Regions from separate parts of the Homo sapiens genome. Here all the other regions are linked to region 1. Evidence: fine-mapped expression QTL. A gene starts in region 1. Each other region holds a variant in brackets. All regions are shown on one strand. Distances are between the middles of the regions. Region 1 holds the start of HACD3 (3-hydroxyacyl-CoA dehydratase 3). Region 2 overlaps DENND4A (DENN domain containing 4A). Region 3 holds the start of INTS14 (integrator complex subunit 14).

What was found.
Region 2: its variant is fine-mapped to the expression of HACD3 in whole blood (TOPMed, PIP above 0.99).
Region 3: its variant is fine-mapped to the expression of HACD3 in whole blood (TOPMed, PIP above 0.99).

The regions. Positions count from the first base shown.
Region 1 is chr15:65,527,326-65,535,511 of GRCh38, forward strand. It overlaps HACD3 (3-hydroxyacyl-CoA dehydratase 3), which reads left to right and starts at 3,138. Exons shown (of 11, transcript NM_016395.4): 1 at 3,138-3,393. The coding sequence starts at 3,307. RefSeq lists an enhancer at 1,462-1,962 and a silencer at 3,001-3,220.
Region 2 is chr15:65,698,443-65,706,628 of GRCh38, forward strand. It overlaps DENND4A (DENN domain containing 4A), which reads right to left. Exons shown (of 33, transcript NM_001320835.1): 15 at 7,649-7,782; 16 at 4,431-4,566; 17 at 3,863-4,069; 18 at 3,320-3,448; 19 at 2,609-2,750; 20 at 2,102-2,233. Among named protein-coding and RNA genes, the nearest start is that of SNORD13E, 5.6 kb to the left of the region's middle. The variant A/G (reference allele first, on the strand shown) is at 3,478.
Region 3 is chr15:65,608,021-65,616,206 of GRCh38, forward strand. INTS14 (integrator complex subunit 14) reads right to left here and starts at 3,111. Exons shown (of 12, transcript NM_001394796.1): 1 at 3,078-3,111. It also overlaps a transcript of SLC24A1 not described here. RefSeq lists an enhancer at 3,029-3,188. The variant C/T (reference allele first, on the strand shown) is at 3,353.

The DNA.
Region 1 (8,186 bases):
TCCAAGATAATTAAGAGCATTTATCCCCAAAAGACAGGTACACAAATATTCAGAGCAGCTTTATTTGTAATAGCTAAAAACTAGAAACAACACAAATATCCATCGATAGGAGAATGGATAAATAATTTGTGGTATACTCATATAGTCAACTACTACAGAGCAAAACCAAAAACTAAAAGAATGAATTACTGATTCACTCAGCAACATGGATAAATCTCATACACATTATGTTGATGAAAGAAACCAAGGCCCGGTGCGGTGGCTCACATCTGTAATCCCAGCACTTTGGGAGGCTGAAGCGGGTGGATCATGAGGTCAGGAGTTCAAGACTAGCCTGGCCAAGATGGTGAAACCCCGTATCTACTAAAATACAAAAATTAGGGGCCAGGCACGGTGGCTCATGCCTGTAATCCCAGCACTTTGGGAGGCTGAGGCAGGCAGATCACGAGGTCAGGAGTTAGAGACCATCCTGACCAACATGGTGAAACCCCGTCTCTACTAAAAATACAAAAATTAGCTGGGCGTGATGGCGGACAGCTGTAATCCCAGCTACTTGGGAGGCTGAGGCAGGAGAATCGCTTGAATTGGGAGGCCGAGGTTGCAGTGAGCCGAGACTGCACCACTGCACTCCATCCTGGGTGACAGAGCAAGACTCTGTCTCAAAAAAAAAAAAAAGAAAAAAGAAAAAGAAACCAGACACTGTAGGTTCCATTTATATAAAATTCAAGAACAGAACAGACAAAAAAGACTCTATGGTGATATATCAGGATAGTAATTACTGAGAGGCAAAGATATTTTAACATGAAATAACCTCTGGGATACTGGAAATATTCCAGATCTTGATCTAGGTGATAATTACATGGATATATACATATAGAAAAATTCAGCTTAAACTGAATATTTAAGATTTACCCATGTTCTATATGTAAACTACATCTCAATGTTTTTAAAAAGTGCCCCATATTGCATCTGCATTGTAGTAAACACAATACAATAAAATACCTTTATCATAAAAAATATTTTATCGTTAAAATTCAAGACTGTCAACGTCACTGCTTTCATCAACTCATTCTTGGCAGATTGCATTGGTCTCCCATTGCTTTGCCTACTACCAATTCCTCCTCCTCTCTGACAGGTCTTTCTTGCTGAGCACATTTGATTTTACTAATCTCCAGGTTAACAAACTTCCTTGGCTCCCATGTGTCTGTGGGATACAGTATAGGCACCTCAGTGAAGCAAACAAAGACTTTCCTAATGCACCCTCTGCCTTTCCAGATTCAGGGCGACCTCTCTCCTCTATGCCTTTAATCCCTAGCAGCAGAACCTCCTTCCACAACCCTCTCTCTTTTTTAAATTTTAAGACAGGGCCTCACACTGTCACCCAAGCTGGAGTGCAGTGGCGCGATCTCGCCTCCTGGGCTTAAGCAATTCTCCCACCCTAGCCTCCCGAGTAGCTCGGACCCCAGGGGCGCGCCAACCACGCCCTGCTAACTGTTGTATTTTTTGTAGAGACAGTGTATTGCCATTTTTCCCAGGCTGGTCTCAAACTCCTGGGCTCCAGCGATCCTCCCGCCTCGTCCTCCCAAAGTGCTGGGATTACACGCGTGAGACGCTGCACCTGGTCCACATCTTTTCACCTGTGAACGAAGCAAGCGCCCTGTGCTTCCACGGCCTACCTGGTTCTTACTCAGTCAAATTCCTACTCGCATTTCACCATCCCGTTCTCAAGGGTTGGCTCTCAAATGTCTGACAATGGTTCCCACGGCCCTCAGTTCCTATCATCATAAACTCTTTGTGAGCTCAGCACATTCATTATATGAAAACTCTCTATATTTTATTCTGTCCACTCTTGAGCTAAATGTTTCCAGAGAGCTAGCAGAATTTGTTTTCAGCGTTAGATCCCTCTGCTAAACAAACGGGTGCTAATAGAATCACTTTGCTAAATAAATGGGAGCTAACAGGATTGAATATGAGTTCCATTTTTGTCCCAGAGTTCTAGTTTTCATATAAATATTTCTTCCCATTAAATTCTTCTCTGCAGAAGAACTTGGGGATGAAACCCGATACAGACAAGACAGCTTAAGTAAGACATAAATGAGTGTTGTCTCTAGTTTGAGTTTCCTATTTTTTTGAGACAGTCTCCTGCACTGTCCAATAGAATAGCCACCAAAAATATGGATATTTAAGTTTAAATTAGAAGTGAATAAAGTTGGCCGGGCGCGGTGTCTCACGCCTATAATCTCAGCACTTTGGGAGGCCAAGGCGGGCGGATCACCTGAGGTCGGGAGTTCGAGACCAGCCTGACCAACATGGAGAAACCTCGTCTCTACTAAAAATACAAAATTAGCCGGTGGCGCATGCCTGTAATCCCAGCTACTCGGGAGGCTGAGGCAGGAGAATCACTTGAACCCGGGAGACAGAGGTTGCGGTGAGCCGAGATCGCGCCATTGCACTCCAGCCTGGGCAACAAGAGAGAAACTCCGTCTCAAAACAAAACAACAACAACAACAAAAAAAAAACAGAAGTGAGTAAAATTGAAAATTCGGTTATTCAGTTCAAGTACTCAAAAGCCTCATGTGGCTAGTGGCTACCGTATTAAAGAGCGCAATGTGCAATATTTCCATCATCACCTACAGTTTTATTGGGCAGCGCTGCCCTGGTCTTTATTTTCCCTTGTTGGAACGCTCTTCCACGCTGCTCCCACACCATGTCCCCTATCACCATTATTATCCTCATTTCATCTGTAATTACTTGCATCTTTTAATAGGCTGGGAGTTCTAAGACAGAAGGGACTGTGTCTCACTTCTGTTGTTCCAGTGTTTAGCTTTGAAACCCAGGCACACAGTAGGTACTCAGTAAACAGAATGCGAAGGACCGTCCAGAGACACCAGTCCCAAACCCTTTTCCAGGCTGATCGGTCCCCCATAAGTCTCCAGCCTTTTTTATTTTAAAGCTTATTTTAAAGCATGTCCCTGAAGACGAGTGGGGAGAGCAGACCACCCGCTGATTCCAATTCCCTAGGCGGCCGCGGCGAGCTGCGGCGTCTCTGTGCCCCGGCCTGCCCCTATCCCGCCTGCGCCCCGCCCCCGCCCGGCTCGCGCCAAGGCCCGCTGCTGGCGCCGCCGCCATCCCGGCGCGTCACTGCGCAGGCGCGGCCCGCGAGCGTGGGGTATCTCGAGGTGCCGGGTTGCAGGCGCTCAGGAGCGCTAGGGTTTGAGGCCTGCTTTCTGCTCGCGCCAGCAGAGCACTACCTGAGGCAGCGAGGCGCAGCGAGCCTAGCCTCCCCGCGCCCTGGGCAGTGTGGCCATGGAGAATCAGGTGTTGACGCCGCATGTCTACTGGGCTCAGCGACACCGCGAGCTATATCTGCGCGTGGAGCTGAGTGACGTACAGGTAAAGGCCGGGTCGGGCGGCGGGAAGCGCGCGGGATCGCGGCTCCGGGTACCCGCCAGGACCCCTGCCCCCTTTGTCCGCGTGCGCGCCGGAGAGCCTGCAGTGCGCCAACAAGGTCGGCGACGCGGTGCGCTTACGGCGTGCTGGCGCTTTTCGAGGCTCATCTGCAGATCTCGGGCCGGGGGCACAACCCCCCGAGGGCTGCAGGAACCTTCGGGTCCCCAGAGAGCTCGGCCTGGGCCTCTCAGGCTACCCCGGGCCTCTTCTTTGTTCGCAGTCGGCGGCCTTCATGGAGCCCAGGCCCGGCCCTGGCTGCCTGGCCGTCGGGGTTCGAGTTGGCTGGGGCCCTTCGAGATGTGGGATGAGCTTGTTGGGTCAGGGGTGCGGTTGTGACAGCGGCTTGCTGGGCCGTAGCTGAATGCCTGCCGCTGGCCTGAGAGGTCCAGCCAGGCCCCTCGGACGTTACTGAGGCTGGGCGCTGCCGGAGGTGGGGGAGGGGGAGGGGTGGGGGGCCACACCCACCTCGCAACCGTTCAGTGATGGAAATCATTCTCATTACTTTTAATTTTAAAATTCACAAGAGCTGGAGGAAGTGATTTCCCCCTCTGTTCTGAAGGTTGTGAGCTCAGGTTTGCTGAGTTGCACAGAGAACTTAAAAAGTTCTTAAGTTACATTAAGCATTTCTGTTTGAGCTCCTTGGCCCTTAATGTAAGCAAGCTGAAGGCACGTAGTAGTGGAGACTCCAGGACCTGTGTATCCTCATGTCTCTGTCCAAACTAAAGATTCTGGGCTTTGAGAAACTGGAATTTTCATTCTGGAAGGTTCTTTCTTTCTTTCTTTCTTTTTTTTTCTTTTCTTTTTTTTGAGACGGTGTTTCGCTCTTGTCGCCCAGGCTGGAGTGCAATGGCGCGATCTCGGCTCACCGCAACCTCTGCCTCCCGGGTTCAAGGGATTCTCCTGCCTCAGCCTCCCGAGTAGCTGGGATTATAGACGCGTGCCACCATGCCCGGCTAATTTTTGTATTTTTAGTAGCGACAGGGTTTCACCATGTTGGCCAGGCTGGTCTCGAACTTCTGACCTCAGGTGATCCACCCGTCTCGGCCTCCCAAAGTGCTGGGATTACAGGCATGAGCCACCGCGCCCAGCCTCTGGAAGGTTCTTTCTACAGTCATTCTTATTGGAAACTTCTCCTTAACATCTATGGCACTTTGTCATCTCTTTCACTCCATTTAACTCTCTCTGCCTCTGAACAGGCATCTGCTTGGATCACCCGTGGATCCGGTAAAATGTAGGTGCTTTCTGAGTGTCGACTTGAATTTATTGAATTTAATATAATCTTTGCTTCTGGAATATAAACAGTTTTCCTGTTGAAAGATGAAGACAGTAGTGGCCAGAATGCCTTTAAATAGGCTATGACATTGCATGGTGTGTCGTTTAATGTGTTCATCCAGACTGAGGCTATACTTTTGGGTCAGAGTATGAGTAAATGTTCTGTGCTGTCTCCCTCTACTGCTCCACGGTGGTTTAATAGAATAGGAAAAAACAAACAAAATCTTTTGTAGATGGGGATCAAAGTCCCCGTCTAGAGAGGGTTCTTCCAGCAGTCAATAAAAAAGTACGGAACAGGCCAGGTGCTGTGGCTCACGCCTGTAATGCCAACACTTTGGGAGGCCGAGGCGGGAGGATCACCTGAGGTCAGGAGTTCGACACCAGCCTGACCAACATGGAGAAACCCCATCTCTACTAAAAATACAAAATTAGCCGGGCATGGTGGTGCATGCGTGTAATTCACTATGTTGGCTACTCGGGAGGCTGAGGCAGGAGAATTGCTTGAACCCGGGAGGCGGAGGTTGCGGTGAGCTGAGATGGTGCCATTGCACTCCAGCCTGGGCAACAAGAGTGAAACTCTGTCTCAAAAAAAAAAAAAAAAAAGTAACCATCTAAAAATTTTTGGGGAAAAATAAATCATTTTTCCCCCTTATTGAGTTTTTGTTTTCTCTGGGGTTTCACATCTGTAGTTTTGAGGCACCCATATTTCAACTACCATTAGTTTAAAAGCATGATGTTACCCTCATAAAAGAGTGTTTACATGTGTTAGCAATCCTCTAACACATGTAAGGTAGTACAGATTTACAAAGGTGAGTCAGACCCAGCTTTTCAAGGGCATGCTATCTAGAAGGAGGCGTATCATATACAAACAAAAAGTTTTGTGTAGGAGTATGTTTATTGGTAGAATTGGAGTTGGATGTTGAACCAGGTATCTGGTGTTAAAGGAATTTGTTACCTTTCTTTCATTTAGTTAGTGATGACTTCCAGAAATGAGAATTATTTTTGTCAAACTAAGACTGGGAGAATGTTCCAGAAAGAGAAAGGCATAGACTTTTAGACACTTGTAATCTCTGACTTAAGCCGTGTCAATGCCCAAAGGCCACCAATAACACACCCGTAGTTAAACAAGTTGGGTTTATTACTCATTGCATTGAGAGAGCATACTCCATGGGGAACCCTGGGGTGTTTCATTAGGAGGGTGTTAGAACTGATTATAGGATTTGGGTGTTGGTGATTAGGGGAGGGGAGGGTTAAGGAGGTTGGGTTTCACTTCAGATAAGATCCTGTAAGAAAATATGGGAGTTTCGTGGTTGGGTATCTGAATAAATCTTACCTGTAGGGCAGGGAGACTAGTATAAGAACAAAACTGTAATTGCTACAGGAGTAGCAGTCACTCAATTTGGCCAAAGGGTGTTTGGTATTTCGTGAGTGGCATAGCCACTATGTATTTGTCTGTGCTTATAACAAAATTGTGAAATGGCCTTTGTCTCATTTTATGAGGATTTCAGAGTAACCTTGTCTGAGGTTGGTATTCTGTGAGATTGTTTATGTCCCATAGGAGAATAACATGGCCTGGCTGTGAGTGCTATGCCTGCTTCTGGAGTGTCACGGGTTGCCTTTTTTTTTTCTTTCTCAACTGATTGCTCTATGCAGGGCCTGTTGAAACCAGTGGTTTTACATGTGCAGATTTGTTATTTAAAAAAAAAAAAAAGAAAGAAAAGCAGCCGGGTGTGGTGGCTCATGCCTGTAATCCCAGCACTATGGGAGGCCGAGACGGGCGGATCATGAGGTCAGGAGATCGAGACCATCCTGGCTAACACGGTGAAACCTCGTCTCTACTAAAAATACAAAAAAATTAGCCAGGCGTGGTGGCGGGCGCCTATAGTCCCAGCTACCAGGAGGCTGAGGCAGGAGAATGGCGTGAACCCGGGAGGTGGAGCTTGCAGTGAGCCGAGACTGCGCCACTGCACTCCAGCCTGGGGGACAGAGCGAGACTCCGTCTCAAAAAAAAAAAAAAAGAAAAGAAACCAGTGGTTCTGGCTCTGGATGAAGCACTTCATTTATTTGTTCAGTAAAAATCGTTTATGGAGTACCTACTCTTGTCTATCATTAAGCTAGGTGTGGGGTTCTTGGACAGCACTTTAACACTCTCTGCTTTCTATAGCATGACCCACAGCTTATGTGTAAGTGTGAGTTTTAAAGTGTTAAGTTCCAGTTTGGAGGCATTGGCTCTGTCTCCCTCCATCCTGACACAGGGAACTGTCCAGTCATCACATCTCTATTCTGTCTTGGATGCTGCAGGGCTAGTGACTATGAGAGAACACGGCTGATGTGAGGAGAAATGGTGGACAATAAAGACTTCAGCAGTGGCATCGTCTGTGCTTGAGGTGAACGGTAGCAAAGAGGCCAGCTAAAGCAGGGTTACTTTCAAGATTGAATTTACTTTCACGATGAACATAATGAACGTGTTTGTCCCGAGAAACATAGTTGTTAAAGCATTGGTTTATTTACAAGGTGCTTGTTTGTTTTGGGTGTTGTGAGCAGAGAACAGAGCGTAGCTGTGTTTGAGAGCTGTTTGAAAGATATTGTTCCTGTCCTTACCTAACAGAGTCTGGTGGAAAGAGTGCTAACTGAACACATGAGATTGGGTCCTTGTTCTTATTACACTTATGCTCTAGTGACCATGATTCACTTAACCTTTATGAACCTGACGCTCTTCATCCAGACAGATATGAACAGTAGTGCCTAACTCATAGGACCATTTTGAGATTTGAATTGGAAAATGGATTTGAAAGTGCTTTGCAAATTCTAGTGTGCAGTTCAAGTGAGTGATTATGATGATTGCGATATTAAACCTTAGATGAGAGGGATGGTCACAGAGCAATGGAAGAATAGAGCCTATTAGCAGACCTATTCATATATGAAAAGTTAAGGTATGACAAGAGGCGCTCTTACAAATTAATGAGGAGAGAATGACCCATTCAGGAAATTGTACTGGGACAATTGGTAATCCAAATGGCAAAAAGAAAATAAGATCCTGCCTTATGCCATACACAAAAATCAGTTTCAGGTGCATTAATGACCTAAACGCATAAAGAAAAACTACTAAAAAGAAATATAGGAGACTATCTTTATAATATTGGAAAGGGGGAGAATGTGTTAAGCAAGATGCACAAAACACAAACCCTAAAGACAAAGATTGGCACATTTAAGACAAACTTGAAGAAGACATTTGCAGTGCATATCATTGAGAGATGACTAATATCACGACTATTTAAAGAACACCTACAGACCAATAGGCAAAAGACGTATTACCTAATAGAAAAAGGGGCAGATAATATAAACATTTCAGAGTAAAAGGAAACAAGAATGACCAATAAGTCTGAAAAGATGCTTGACTGCAATTATGACCAGGCACATGTACAGGCATACCTTGTTTTATTGTGCTTTGCTTTATTGTGCTT
Region 2 (8,186 bases), 170 kb after region 1:
TTTTTGTTTGGATTTGAAGTTCCCAAATTTGTAAAACGTAAGGTTGTTATTACTATATGAGACTATATATGAAAAATGTTTATAAACTTGTAAAGCACTCTCTAAAGAAATTATATTATGTATCACTAGATATTCACTTTAATATCGTTGTTATAATTTTCAGTTTTTATTTTTTCTAATCAAACTTCAGGTCCATTTTTAAAGGAATTATAAATAGAAAAATCTGAGAATAATCTTGATGAAATTCATGCTTTTATTAGGTTTTACACTATTTTAAGATAGCCTTTTTTTTTTTTTTTTTTTTTTTTTTTTGAGACAGAGTCTCAACTATGTTGCCCAGGCTGGAGTGCAGTGGCGTGATCTTGGCTCACTGCAACCTCCACCTCCTGGGTTCAAGCAATTCTCGTGCCTACGCCTCCCAAGTAGCTGGGATTACAGGAATGTGCCACCATGCCTAGCTAATTTTTGCATTTTTAGTAGAGATGGTGTTTCGCCATGTTGGCCAGGCTGGTCTTGAACTCCTGGCCTCAAGTGACCTGCCTGCCTTGGCCTCCCAAAATGCTAGAATTACAGGTGTGAGCCACTGCACCAGGCCTAAGATAGCCTTTTTAAAAGCCACAGTTAAAAGATAAGATTTCTTCATTTGTAAGAGATAATGCCAAAGGATAACTATTGTAACTGATGAAAATCACACTGCATAATCAAGGAATAAAATCAATCAAGGAAGAATAACTATGAATATTACATTTCAACAAAATGAGCTTACATTTATTAAACTTTAGGTATAAAGTAAGACAGACCAAAATAATATTGACATTTGCAGAGATAGGGGCCTTCATATTTTATTAGTAATGCTTCAATTTTTAAAGTTTCTGTCCTTTAAGAGTTTGCTCTTATCTGTAGTCAAAAGTCATGTGTAATTTTTGAAATGTAATAATAAAAAGAACAGAATTATGTAAATAATTTATTTTTAAGTGTGTCAATTGTAATAATAGTTAAGAAAAGCTGATATACGAACTTATACTTCTATGAAATTAATGCCATCTTCGGCACTATAATTCTAGCACTGAAGTATACAATTCTATATACACATATATAAACATACACATAAGATATATAATTCTATATACACATATATAAATACATATACATATGTGTATATGTATTATACACACATGTTATACATATACTACTACACATACATATATAATATTATACATATATTATTTTATATATATATATAAATTTTTTTTTTGAGACAGGGTCTCGCTCTGTCACCCAAGCTGGAGTGCAGTGGCTTGATCATGGCTCACTGCAGCCTCAACCTCCTGGGTTCAAGCAATTCTCCTACCTCAGCCTCCCTAGTATCTGGGAGCACAGGCATGGGACACCAAGCCCAGCTAATTTTTGTATTTTTGTAGAGACAGGGTTTTGTTATGTTGCCCAGACAGTCTCAAACTCCTGGGCTCAAGTGAACCACCCACCTTAGCTTCCCAAGGTGCTGGGATTACAGGCATGAGCTATCACACCCAGCCTTAAAATGCTATATTTTTATATATTTAAAATTTTTTATTATGACTTTTAAAATCACTTAAGATTTAGAAGTTGCAAAAACATTACAGTACAGAGAGTTCCTTGGTACAATTCACCTAGCTTCCCCCCATGATAATACCTTACATAACCATAGTACATTGTCAAAACCAGGAAACTGATGTTGGTACAATACTATTAACTTAGACACAGAGCTATGCTTCTTTTTTTAAAAAACTCTAATATCATTTTCATAATTTCAAAGAATTTATTATAAGAAAATGATAGGGTAAACAGATCTATGTCTACGCAGAGTTAACTGGATTATCATATACTAAATACTTGAATAAAGTGATTTATAACCTCTCTTAAAACTTTTATTTCTATTCAAATAAAGAATGAATAAAATTTCATATAGTTATTAAATCTAATATCAAATAAAATACATAATATATAAAATTAAAAAGTGACAGTTAAACATCACTGAAAATGAAAATGTAAAAAAACATAGGCTAGCAAATCTAGTTTTAAAAATGTACTATAATAAATGTATACATAAGCATACACAAACCTGTACTAGATCTATCATCAGTAGCATATACTTTGATTAAACCCGTATTAAAAGGTGCCTGCTCCACAGTGTGTGTCCCATGACCACTATCCATGCTGCCATGACTAACAGCATCCAGGTCACTGCCATCTGCTTAAGAACACAATTTGACAGCATTTTACTACTCGAAGAGGTAAATACACATTAATTTGTTGCTCAAGCTAATAATCCACCAATGTAATACTGAACATGAAAAGTGCCACATACTTAGCAAAATACAACTATAACAAAGAAACCTATTGTGAGTTATTAATGAACACTAAAACACACACAAAGGTCGTCAGAAGTTGAAACATTTAAACAGAAGTGAAATCTGGTGGTTTTTAAATGGGAAGAGTAATATAATTTGCTTAATAAAACTAAAAACTAAAACATTCAATATTTTAAAACTATTTAAAATTTCTAAAAATGTAAACTGTAGCTAATCAATTAATTTTGAAGAACAAGTAAAACACATACATCCCTTACCTGAGAGAGTTGTTTGTGATAAGTGTGCATGCTTCTTTAAAGCTCTTTTGAACTGTGTTACTCCTAAAACAACATTTCTTACTTTTGTCCAAAGAAAATAGCCACTACGACTTCTTGAAGGCCAGGTACTTTCCAAAACAGCCTATTCATTCAACAAAATAAAATAATTAGTAAAATAATTTTTATAAGTGAACATATATTGGTTTCAGAATTAAGCTAAAGAATATCAAAGTAGGCCAGGAGTGGTGGCTCATGCCTGTAATCCCAGCAATTTGGGAGGCTGAGGCAGGTGGATCACTTGAGCCCAGGAATTCAAGACCAGCCTGGGCAACAAGGTGAAACCCCACCTCTCCAAAAAATATGAAAATTAGCCAGGCATGGTGGCACATGCCTGTAGTCCCAGCTACTCAGGAGGCTCAGGTGGGAAGATCAATTGAGCCTGGGAGGTCAAGGCTACAGTGAACCATGATTGTGCCACTGCACTCTAGCCTGGCGCTAGAGTCTCACAGAGTGAGACCCTGTTTCAAAGAAAGAAAAAATCAAAGTAGATTGTATAACATAAAAGAGAACTAAAGTCTTCCTTGATTGACAAAATGTATTTTATATACTCTAAAATAAATGCCAAATAACCCCCTGCATAAATTATTTCTGCCATTAATGTTGCATAATGACAAAAGTAATACTCTTTATCCATTAAACCAAGGTATTTACCTTATTATAATAACCATAAGTAATGGCATTGGGGTCAATACCAGCTTTCTGCATTTCAAAAAGCACTCGAACTGCAAGCACTGGCTGATCATATTGTCCACAGAGTTGCATAAGAATGCGGTAGCATACCTGAAATACAAGTTCAAAATTGTACCGAA[A/G]CACAGATGTCACCATGTACATAAATCTAGAATAAAATAATGCATTTTAAACAATAATTGTGGCAGGGCACAGTGGCTCATGCCTGTAATTCCAACATTTTGGGAGGGCAAGGCAGGTGAAGCTCTGGAGCCCAGGAGCTTCTGACTAACCTAGACCACATAGTGAGACTCTGTCTCTACAAAAAAATTAAAAAATTAGCCAGGCGTGGTGGCACATGACTGTAGTCACAGCTATCTGGGAGGCTAAAATGGGAGGATTGCATCTCTTGAGCTCAAGAGGTTAAGACTGCAGTGAGCCATGACTGCATCACTGCACTCCAGCCTGGGTGACAGAGTGAGACCCCATCTCAAAAAAATAAAATAACAACAATAAAATAATTGTTACCTCATCAGGTGGATCCATCTTCTTTGACTGCATTTTTTTAAGCACATCATATGCTGTTTTCAGAGCCCTGACTTTTGAATGACAGACTTTCACATAAGCTGGGAGACAAATAAACCACAGTCCATAACAGTGGCGCAGTAGACACCTAGACCACATCTGAGGGATGGAAGAGTACCTCTTTGCAATTTTATGGGCTGATTTAATTTCCTGGAAAAAATATAAAGATCTTACTAATAAATTTATGCACTTAGGCATCTTTATTTAACTGAGTGCTAAACAAGTACAAGTCACATGCTTTTATAATGTTTCCATAACAAAATATGTCTGTAATTAATGCGTTTTCAAGTTTCTTTTTGAATCTGTATTAAACAGCATATAAAATAAAGTTCTAGGACAAGAGAACTAGTTAATTTCTTGAAGTCAGATTGCTCCATCTTCACAGTGCTTTGGTGAACATAATAATCTAGTAATAGTTATATATGAAGTGATAAAGCATATTACGGGAGGATAAATATCCAATTTATTTCTTGTTCTAAAATTTGATTACATGAAGAATGTGATAAAGTACCTGTTTTGTTCTTCTGAACATGGGCAAAGGGCTATTAGGACTACTTGATTTTGAAGGCAATTTGTTCTTCTTTGCTTGTAGAAATCCTTCAGGTCTTTCAAATAAATTGTTCCTAAGAACTGGAAATCCATTATAGCTGTTTTAGAAAAAACAAAACAAAACAAAAAAGAGTTCTCAAGCACACATAGATGATCATAGTGGTTACAGGTTAATATAATTACGACCAATAACTTCTTCACATAGAATTTAACTATCTTTCTTTGTCAGGCTGTGATATACACTCAACAAATATTCATGCTAATGTTGCTCTTCTTACTATAATTAGAAATGTAATAGCCAAATTCAGACTCAAGTTAGTTTTTGAGGAAAAGGGAAAAACATAAATGAACATGACATCCAACTCCAAGGTAACTTTAGCAAACTTTTAAAAGTTAGTACTCTTGTTAATACATAGCAAACATATTAGATAATATGACAGTTGGTAAAAGGCCTACCAAATTAAGACTCTTTCAAAAAGGGCAATCATTAATGTCATTGCTTTGGATTAACATATTTACTGTTGAACCTCCCTTCTTAGAAAGATGCAAATAACAACCTTAGGTTTAGCATATTAGCACACCAGGCCTTGCTCTCACATTCTCATGAATTGGTTTGTCAGGTTAGCTAGTGGGTTCAGGGCATCATTTATGAGAAAGAAAATTGAGAAGGCTAAATAAGAGGAAGAAAAGGTTAGAATAGGTGCTCTATTAGGAGGTAAACCTAATAAGGGTGCGAGACCAAGATGCTCTGGACATTTCAAAGCTAGCAGCTAGGCTGGGTGCAGTTAGTGCATGCCTATAATCCCAGTTACTCAGGAAACTAAGGCAGGAGGACTGCCTGAGCCCAGGAATTCAAGGCTGTAGTGCACTACGGTTCTGCCAGTGAACAGCCACTGCACTCTAGCCTGGACAACATAGTGAAACTTCATTAATAAATAAGTAAATAAGTGAAAGGCAGCAGTTAGGAAAAAGATATGCTGAAAGAAACCAAAGCAGCCCCCTGAGCAATACACTTAACCTGTTTAAGAATACTATGTAATATTTTCTTAAAAGCACATAGTTTTAATTAAGAAGAAACCTAACTATAATAAAAGAGGGTAGACAATATTTTTTACACATTACTATAGTCAAATTCCATAGAATAAGAAAATATTAGTAATGATTCAATGTTGAGTAGGAAACAGCAAAGAAATCCAGGAAAACCATGCCCCTTAAAAAATTCATTGTATGTATATGATGAGATAATAAGACCATTTTGTGTGTCTTATTTCAAATGCCTCATTATTTTACAAAGACAATGTAAGTTTATGAGTAATCTCTTATGAGGCAGACTCTGTGCTCATTAAGGACATTTACGGTGTTTTCCCAATTATGGTAATGATTATACCAAAATTATATTGGTAGTCTGAAGAAAAAAACCGACAGATTCTTAAAAAACAGAAACGTCTTCAGATAAGTAATTTTCTTATTATTTTATTTTTTGATTTATGTCTGTTCCATCGCCCAAGCTGGAGTGCAGTAGCTCAATGATGGCTCACTGCAGTCTCAACCTCCCAGGCTCAAGTGATCCTTCCACCTCAGCCTCCTGAGTAGCTGGGACCACAGGTGTGCAGCACCACGCCCAGCTATTTTTAAAAAATTATTTATAGAGATAAGGTCTTGCTATGTTGCACAGGCTGAAATAATGTGGTTTTTTTGGAGATAGAGTCTCGTTCTGTCACGCAGGCTGGAGTGCAGTGGCACGATCTCGGCTCACTGCAACCTCCACCTCCCCGGTTCAAGAAATTGTCCTGCCTCGGCCTCCCAAGCAGCTGGGATTACAGGCACCTGCAACCATGCCTAGCTAATTTTTGTATTTTTAGCAGAGACAGGGTTTTCACCATGTTGGCCAGGTTGGTCTCGAACTCCTGACCTCAAGTGATCCGCCCACCTCAGCCTCCCAAAGTGCTGGGATTACAGGCATAAGCCACCGCGTCTGGCCAAATTTTCTTAGAGTTAAAGGACTAAATCTAAAAATAAAATTTAAATTAAAAAGTTAAAACCAAACCACAGAAACACAAAACTCGAAGTGACACATACCAAAAGACAAATAAGCATAAAGTACAAAAGAGATTAAAAAATGAGAACTTGTTTAGAAAGACAAAGAGAGGAAGAGAGAAATTAAGAGAAATATTTTAAATATCTTTGACAGAAGACATTTAAAAAGTGATACAAACATCATCATCACTGGATGAAAAGAGTAGAAATCAAGTGGTCTCTGATTAATCAACATTCATAAACATCTATCACACCACTTTTTCATCTGTAAAAGGAAGAATTTAATCCAAGTCATAAACAAAGATGTCATTGAAAAATCCTTTTTCAATGAAAATAACAAACCATGATTCAATGGGTGATAGATGTGAAATGGTTTTTAGAATCTTTAAACAAAGTAAGAAAATATTATTGGAGAATTAAGAAATCTTTTAAACTCTAAAAGAAACTACAATTTTAAGTAAAAATAAATGCATATTGGGAACTAAATAATGCATTCACCTCTATCATAGCCCTTATTTTACTGTGCTCAGGACTTTTCTCTCTTCTTCACTAGACTTGAAGGCAGGGACAATATATCGTTTAAGTCTGTATACTTAGCACAGTGTCTAACCAAATTCCCTAAATTAACAATGATCAATTCTAATAATTCTGAATTTCCATGACTTAAAACTCATGAAAAAAATTAGTAACTTAAAAAATTATATCGTACAAATCAAGGCCACGAAGATTGGCTCTAAATTAGATTTAATCTTTTTGTAAACCAAGGCTATATTAATCAATCTGTGTATGAGATGAAAAGAGGAATTGAAAGTGAGGAAACCAGCTTTAACGAAAAAAAAATCAAAATTCTAGTGCTGCATTTGGTGTGGGGAGTCTAACTGAATGTAATCAACATTTACAAGGAGAGATACTTATGCAGACATCATTAGAGAGCTTCCCAAGTCTATATTATGCAAAATTATATATGTTTTCTTTTTATACCTCAAAGCTTAATAATGGATGTGGGATAAGCTTGCTTACCACCTAAAAATTAGGGATCTGTAAAGTTTGGATTTTTGAAAATACCACAGTCCTTAGAAAGCTACGTCACAGATGATGGATTGCTTCTCTCTTTCAATCTCAAACATTCTGCCTCTTGAATACCTGTACTGTAAAGGGGGTTCTTCACCATTGGGTAGGTGGGGGATCTCAGGTGGTGTTACAAAAACAGTGTGTTCACTTTTGAAAGATTCATCCAGTTCTATAAGTCGTACTTCACCGCTCTTGTCCATATCCACCTAAAGGAGTTTTAAAAACATATATTAAAAAAGCCACATTGGTTAGCCAAGTGTTCATATAAAGGGAAGTGGTTAAATAAACCATCTGCACAATGGATACTAAACAGCTATTAAAAAAGAAGAGTGAGCAAGTTCTCTATGAGTGCCAAAATAATTAAGTGAAAATAGCAAAGTGCAAACTGTAAATAGTATATTACCTTTTGAATAAGAAAAGGGGAAAATAACACACACACACACACACACACACACACACACACACACACACACACACATATATATATATATTTTTTTTTGAGACAGTCTTGCTCTATCGCCAGGATGGAGTGCAGTGGCACGATCTCAGCTCACTGCAACCTCTGCCTCCCGGTTCAAGTGATTCTCCTGCCTCAGCCTCCCAAGTAGCT
Region 3 (8,186 bases), 81 kb after region 1:
GTATTCATTGTACATAAACTGGCCAATGGTGCTTCAACTGTGAAGGAAAAGAACAAAATTAAAGAATATGTAAGGTCGGGCACAGTGGCTCATGCCTGTAATCCCAACACTTTGAGAGGCCCAGGTGGGCGGATCTCTTGAGGTCAGGAGTTCGAGACCAGCCTGGCCAATATGGTGAAACCCTGTCTCTACTAAAAATACAAAAATCAGCCAGGCATGGTGGCTACTTGGGAGGCTGAGGCACGAAGATCCCTTGAACACAGGAGGTGGAAGTTGTAGTGAGCCGAGATCGTGCCACTGCACTCCAGCCTTCCAGCCTGGGTGACAGACGAAGGCTCCATCTCAAAAAAAAAAAAAAAAAAAAAAAAATTTATACAGCTGGAATTATCTCATGAAATTGGGTAGAAAAGTCAAAATGTACAAATGGAGTTATTCAAAATTATGGATTGAGAATTAGCATAAAGAAAACATTTTGGTGCTCAAAAATAAAAAAGTTTACAGATACACAGACCTGCTCATGGGTATATAGCCTGCTGCTACTCTATTATTAAGCAAACTGTAGGCTACTGACATGATGAAATATCATAAAACTATAAATAAATGACATATGTACTACAGATATCAGAAATACTTATAGAAAGCATTAGTAACTGAGAAAAGCAGGCCCCAGAACTGTATTATACACTGCTTACAACTTCATAAAAATCATAATGCAAATATACAATTAGAGAGATTAGGTGGATATAAACAGGTTAGAAATTTAATGTTCACAACTTTCTTTTTTGGGATTAACTTCAAAACATTTAACAGTAGCCAGATTACTTGTTTAAGGATGGTGCCCAGCTGCAAATGTGTCATATTCTAAAATTCCATTTGTTCTTTTTTGTTTTTGAGACGGAGTCTTGCGACATCTGTCGCCCAGGCTGGAGTGCAGTGGCGCGATCTCCGCTCACTGCAAGCACCGCCTCCCGGGTTCACGCCATTCTCCTGCCTCAGCCTCCCGAGTAGCCGGGACTACAGGCGCGAGTAGCCAGGACTACAGGCGCGTGTCACCACACTCGGCTAATTTTTGTATTTTTAGTAGAGATGGGGTTTCACCACATTGGCCAGGCTGGTCTCGAACTTCTGACCTCGACATTGGCCAGGCTGGTCTCGAACTTCTGACCTCGTGATCCACCTGCCTCTGCCTCCCAAAGTGCTGGGATTACAGGCGTGAGCCACCGCGCCCAGCCAAAATTCCATTTGTAAGTAGGCTGTTTCGAACTCAGAATACACTGGTTCATGGAAACAATGTTTACAACTCAGGTTGTAAGCATAGGCGTAAAAGAAGAAACTGAAAGTTCCTGAAGGATGGTTCACTCAAGCAGTATAGGCCCGACTGAAAAAAAAAAAGTGAGGTCCTGCACAATATTGGTTCAACTACACTATATTAGACCATAACATACGCTCACTAAGGGCAGGGACCATGCCACATTTTGCCCATGATGTCTCCTCAAAACTTATCACAGTAACTGGCACATAGTAGGTGCCCAACAATTTGATAACAACTGATGAACTACCCCTAAATCACCAGATATACCATATATTATTTAGCAAAATACATTATAAATGTTAACTCTGGACACCAGAAACACATTTCCTCTTCTCCTCATTCAAGCAGACATATGGGGGACTCCCTCACGTCTGCCCAGCTCCTGTGGTAGTCCCATTCATGCAGGGAGGCCTTTTTACAAGTTGAGGATCATGAGGAGTACTGCCCTCACCTCTTAGGAGAATGGGAGGAAACAGTTTACACAGACTTAGATCAAATACAAAAAAGCACTTTCAGCCCGTGAAATCTGCTGTTGACAGTGATGACAGCTGGCAGTCTTGCCTTCTCTGAAGACACCTCTGGAGCTGGCTCTTTCTCCCAAGTGATGCATTTGTGTCGACTCCCAAATGCACCTCATTAACAGTTACAAAGTCGTGGGAGATCAATTTAGTACTCAGGTTGGAGTAAAGGAGGGAACTGAAAGTTCCTGAAGGATAGTTCACTCAAGCAGTATAGGCCTGATTAAAAAAAAAAAAGGCCAGGCACGCCTTTAATCCCAGCACTTTGGGAGGCTGAGGCGGGCAGATCACCCGAGGTCAGGAGTTCGAGACCAGTCTGACCAACATGGTGAAACCCCATCTCTACTAAAAATACAAAAATTAGCCAGATGTGGTGGCGTGCGCCTGTGGTTCTAGTACTTGGGAGGCTGAAATAGGAGAATTGCTTGAACCCAGGAGGCAGAGGTTGCAGTGAGCCGAGATCGCGCCACTGCTCTTCAGCCTGGGCGACAGAGCGAGACTCCGTCTTGGGTGGGGGGGAATCCCTGCCCACCACAGTCTACCAATTTTGTGAGCACAACACTATGTATTCCTCACTTGGGTGGATTCTGAGCCCCCAAGTCTCCCACCCCCACCCCCTTCCCACGTGTACTGTTCAAACAACTAGGGCTCTTCTTTCTCAGGAACAGTCTGAGAAATAGGCCCTAGCCACCTATTTGGCCTTGAATACCAAGTGTCCATCAGCTAGACGTTTGTAATTCTTCCCTGAAGGTGATAATTAGCTCATTCATAAAGAACTGATTCTCAGCAGTCTCGCTCTCAAAGCAGGATTCTACCTGAATTTCTAGTGCCTCACCTGCTCTTTGGCTTTCCCGTCAGCCTCCGGGAGTCCCTCCCCAGTTCTCAGATATAATTTCATCTCTAAAAGTCCAGACTGAAAATCACATCTGGGAGATGTATTTTTACCTTAAAAATCAGTCAAGAAAATGTGGGATCTGGAAGTCTCTCTTGGAAAGAGGGGGCAGAGGGGAGCTGAGCAGAGGGCGAAATCGTGCAGTTTACGCGGAGCTGGGGACCCCGAGCCTCAGAGCGAGGGGAGGCCGGGAGCAGCGCCCCGGAACTGGCGCCTCACAGACAGCGCGGGGCGGCCGCCACGGTGGCGGGAAGGCCAAGCGCTGGCCCTGGGTTGTTCTTCACCCATAACCCCTTCACCTGTAACCCCAACAAGCAGCGAAAGGCAGTCCCGGGCCCTCGGCCTCCCCACTCACCCCGTGCCCATCGCCGGACACAGTCCGTCGGCATAAACTTTCCGTCGGCATAAACTTTCCGTCCGCGCGCCACAGCCGGAACTATAAGGCCGCGCGACAGAAGGGAATCCGGCGCCTGCACTCCGCGCTGGGCGGGGCGGTCCTTGGAGAGCTTCAGGGTCGCCCGGGCAGGGTTCTGGCTCATCCCGGAGGGACGCTAGGGGGCGCGGCCTCTCTTCGCGATGGCCAATCCGCGGCCACCCCTCTCCTCCCACAAATCCCCAACTTCTCTCGAG[C/T]CTTGGCTGGGTTTCCTGCCGTGTCTCTCTGCATTGCCCTGAATCTCTCCCCATTCTCGGGCTCTTTCCTTCCCCTTCTGCCCCACTGACCCATGGGCCTCACCTGGCCCGGTGACTCTGTGTCCGCTTCACACTTTTGTCCCCTCACTCCCCTGGGCCCCGTCGGTGCACGAGCCCAACCCTTCCTGCTATTTTCCTCGTCACTCTTTAGCCCCCTCTCTCGTATCCTCTGAACCGGTTGACAGAATCCTCTTCCTGTTCTTTTTAAACTGCAATTCCTGAACTACAAATCCTGGCCGGGCGTGGTGGTTCAGGCCTGTAATCCCAGCACTTTGGGAGGCCAAGGTGGGCGGATCGCTTCAGGTCAGGAGTTTGAGACCAGCCTGGGAAACATGGTGAAACCCCGCTCTCTACTAAAATACAAAAATTAGCCGGGCATGGTAACGAGTGCCTGTAATCCCAGCTACTTGGGAGGCTAACGCACGAGAATCTTGGGGGGAAAAACCCCAAAACTGTAATTCCTGGCTGAGGTATGCTTTGTATATCCTTCTTAGCTGACCTGAGCCCAATTTACCTCAAGACTTGGCCTCTTGGTCTCCTCAGCCCAAATGCTCACTTTATTTCCCCTATCCCCTCTTTGAGGGAAGCAGAGGGCCCTCGTTCCTCTCACCCTGGACAAGGCATGCGTGCTCAGATTTCCCTGTAAGGCAACATGGGCTCTTGCCTGCCACTCTGGCCACCTGGTGTCTCCATTGTAGTCTGTGCCTCAGTGAGGTCCTTAAGAGGGCAAGAGGTGACTTTCTTTCTAACCATGTAGGGAGCCAGGGAATCCCAGCTAGAGATAGGCTTAGATGGATGCCAGCAGGCCCCTGGGTAGTTACGGTTCAAAGAACAATGTGGAACCACATAGGTTACAAAGTGAGTACAGAAAGGCCTCTAGAAGGCCTCAGGCATTTGCCTTTTTCTTTTAGCTGATAGGATGGGGCGAGATTAGGAGATGGGACGAGGAAGGAGGATGCTTTGAACTGAACAGACAAATCTGTCTGACTTCTCACAGCTTGTTATGTGGGAGATTGTGGGGCCAGTTGCTTGTAGTTTTTTCCTGTCCCTGGGAATATCCCTGCCAGCACTGGGGCCAGGGCCCTGCAGACTGCCCTATTTGCTTCAAAACTTCTTTCCCCAACCTGGCTGATCTCACCATGTCAAGACCTAGTTATGCTTGAGCAGGCATTGGGCTCCAGGTAAGTAAGGCTGCAGCCTGATAACTTAGTCATGATTTCTAATCTTGCCCTATTGGGAGGGATGTGGCCAAGAATGTGTGGGTAAGCAAGTGTCTAGTTACCCCTAATGTGACAACGACTTAGCCATAGGGTTACTGTCCTCGTGGTAATTCTGGCTCAGTTGCAGGGTCTGATTCATTACCTTACCCAACCCTAAAGCTTAAGTTAGTTCACTGATGGATGATCAAATCTTGTGACCTAGTTCTTCTGAATAACAGGCTTTGGGAGACTTGGAAAGCAAAAAATCAATATATTAAATTGATGATAAAAGGCACAGCTACCAGGAGGACTGTGTTACTTAGGGCAACTAGTTTGTTTGTTTGTTTTTCCTCCTTAGTGGAATCCCATTACAAATCAGAAGGTTGTTCAGTGACTATAACATCAGAGAACATCAGCACAAAGGTTAGAAGGTTTTAAAGGGGGTGTCTTTCAAGCCATCACTGGCTGATGAATTTCTTTTCCCCACTCAAACGACCCTCAGCATTTGCGTGTTTCCACACACACATTAAAGGAAATCAATAAATAGTTTCCTTTGCATAATCTCTCATTCCCTTTATTTTTTCCTGCCTTGAAACAGTGGACTGCTGTCCCAAAGGCTTTGAAAGGCAGTGTTTGATCCCCAGTCTGACAGAGGAAAGGTTTATGACAGAAAAACCATGGCTCTCACAGGGGCTAGGTACTGGGGAGCTCAAAGGGAAGTCTAGATATCTCAATCTCCCAGAGCACGTGTTGAAAATGCAGATTCCCAGACCTTGCCAAGTGAAATGGAAATGAAATTTCATGACTTCGTGCTTGAGAATCTTTGCTGTTAAGTTCCCAGGGTGATTTTGTGTGTGTGTGTGTGTGTGTGTGGTGACAGGGTCTTTGTCACCCAGGCTGGAGTGCAGTGGCATGGTCATGGCTTCTTGCAGCCTTGACTTCCTGAATTTAAGCAATCCCCCCCAACCTCAACCTCCCACGTAGCTGGGACTACAGGCATGTGCCACCATGCCTGGCTAATTTTTAAATTTTTTGTAGAGATGGGGGTCTCACTATGTTGCCCAGAGTGGTCTTGAACTCCTGATTTCAAGCGATCCTCCCTCCTTGGCCTCCCAAAGTGCCAGGATTACAGGCATGAGCCACTACATTTGGCCCCAAGATGATTTTTCATCTACAGAGATAAGGGATAGGGAATGAGTAAGTGAAGAAAAGGCTGAGGGGTGGGGGAAGAGCAGTGGGCCTACTTCTCTTTTGCATTCTTCCCGCTCTTCTCATACTCCCATGATGTCCTTTGCCCTGCATTTCCCTTTCTGCCCCTGTAGTCTGGAGACTGTTCACTCCCAAATCATACTTCCAAGCTCCAGCCCCTTCCTCTCATCATTACCTCCTCCCTATTTCACTATTTTCACCAAAGCAGAAGTCAATCATAAATATGACCCTTCTGTCTTCTGAAAAAAAATTTTATTATGGAAATTTTCAAACATAGACAAAGATAGGGAGATTAGGATAATAAATCCCTGTGTGCCCTTCACCCAGTTTCTGCTGTCAATGCAATCCTCATCTCGTTTCATGTACACCCCTACCGACTTCTCCCCACATATTATTTTGATGGAGATCCCTGATAGCATAACATTTTATCCAGGAATATTTCCTTATGTATCTTTAAAAGAGAACTTAAAAATATATAATTACAATACCATTATCAAATTTAACATAATTAACAATAAATCCCTAATATCATCAAATATCGAATCAGCTTTCAAATATTCAGTTGTGTCATAAATATCATAAATTTTACTTTTTTACACTTTGGTTATTTGAATCAGGATCCAAGTAAGATCCAGATATTGAAATCCGTTGCTATATCTCAGAAGTCTCTTTTAATCCACAGGTTTCCCCCTCTTTTCCTTCGAAATGTATTTGGAAAACTGTGCTCCCCCTCCTTTTAAAATTGCTCTCAATCCTCTTTCAGTTTTTTCCAGAGCATTTGAGAAAACCGCAAAGCTGCTCTCTATTTTAAATAATGAAAAGACTCACTGAACAAAGAAAAGCTTTACACATTTCCAATTCCAACTAACTTTGCCTCTGCTCTGAAAATAGGGTGAGCTTTATCCATCACTGGATCCCCCAGGGTCTGGCATGTGATGGTGGATATGCATTTGTGGAAAGAAGATAGGAGGGGAGTAAGAGAGGTTATTGGAAAAAAAAGTCAAAGAGGAAAGCAGAGAAAACTTGGTAGATACTACATTTCTCTAAGAAAGTAGAAAGGAACTTCTTTCTTCCATACACTCTTTCCTTTGAAAAGTGCTATAAAGGCCTAGAGTGGTGGCTCTCAGCTCTTCGGGAGGCGGAGGCAGGAGAATCGCTTGAGCCCAGCTGTTCGAGACTAGCCTGGGCAACATAGAAAGACCTTGTCTCTACAAAAATTAAAATTAACCAGGTGTGGTGGTGTGCACCTGTAATCCTAGCTACTCAGGAGGCTGAGGCAGGAGGATTGTTTGAGCCCAACAGTTCAAGGCTGCAGTGAGCTGTGATTGTGTCACTGCACTCCAGCCAGGACAAGATCTTATCTCTAAAAACAAACAAACAAACAAACAAACAAAATGCTATGAAGTCTAAATTTTTAAAGGCCCCTCATGATCTGGGCCCTGACCCAGGCTCACCACTCACTCTCTTAAAACCTTAGTGGCATCTTTCAATGAAAAAGAAGATAAAGCCAAATAAAACTAGTTTTTAAAAACTTATAAAAAGTAATTTGTGAGGCTGGGAGGCCGGGCACGGTGGCTCACGCCTGTAATTCCAGCACTTTGGGAGGCCGAGGTGGGTAGATCACTTGAGGTCAGGTGTTCGAGGCAAGCCTGACCAACATAGTGTAACCCTGTCTCTACTAAAAATACAAAAATTAGCCGGCTGTCATGGCGGGCACCTGTAGTCAGCTGCTTGGAAGGCTGAGGCATGAGAATCGCCTGAATCCGGGAGGTGGAGGTTGCAGTGAACCAACATCATGCCACTGCACTCCAGCCTGGGCAACACAGCAAGACCCTGTCTCAAAAAAAATAATAATTTGTGTCTATGGATAAAAATTCAAAGTTAATTTTAATTTTTTTTTAGTCATACTTTAAGTTCTAGGGTACATATGCACAACATGCAGGTTTGATACATACGTATGTATGTGCCATGTTGGTTTGCTGCACCCATTGACTCATCATTTACATTAGTTATTTCTCCTAATGCTATCCCTCCCCCACCCCCCCACCCCCCAACAGGCCCCAGTGTGTGATGTTCCCTGCCCTGTGTCCAAGTAATCTCATTGTTCAATTCCCACCTATCGGTGAGAACATGCAGTGTTTGGTTTTCTGTCCTTGAGATAGTTTGCTGAGAATCATGGTTTCCAGCTTCATCCATGTCCCTGCAAAGGACATAAACTCATCCTTTTTTATGGCTGCATAGTATTCCATGGTGTATATGTGCCACATTTTCTTAATCCAGTCTATCATTGATGGACATTTGGGTTGGTTCCAAGTCTTTGCTATTGTGAATAGTGCCACAATAAACATATGTGCACATGTGTCTTT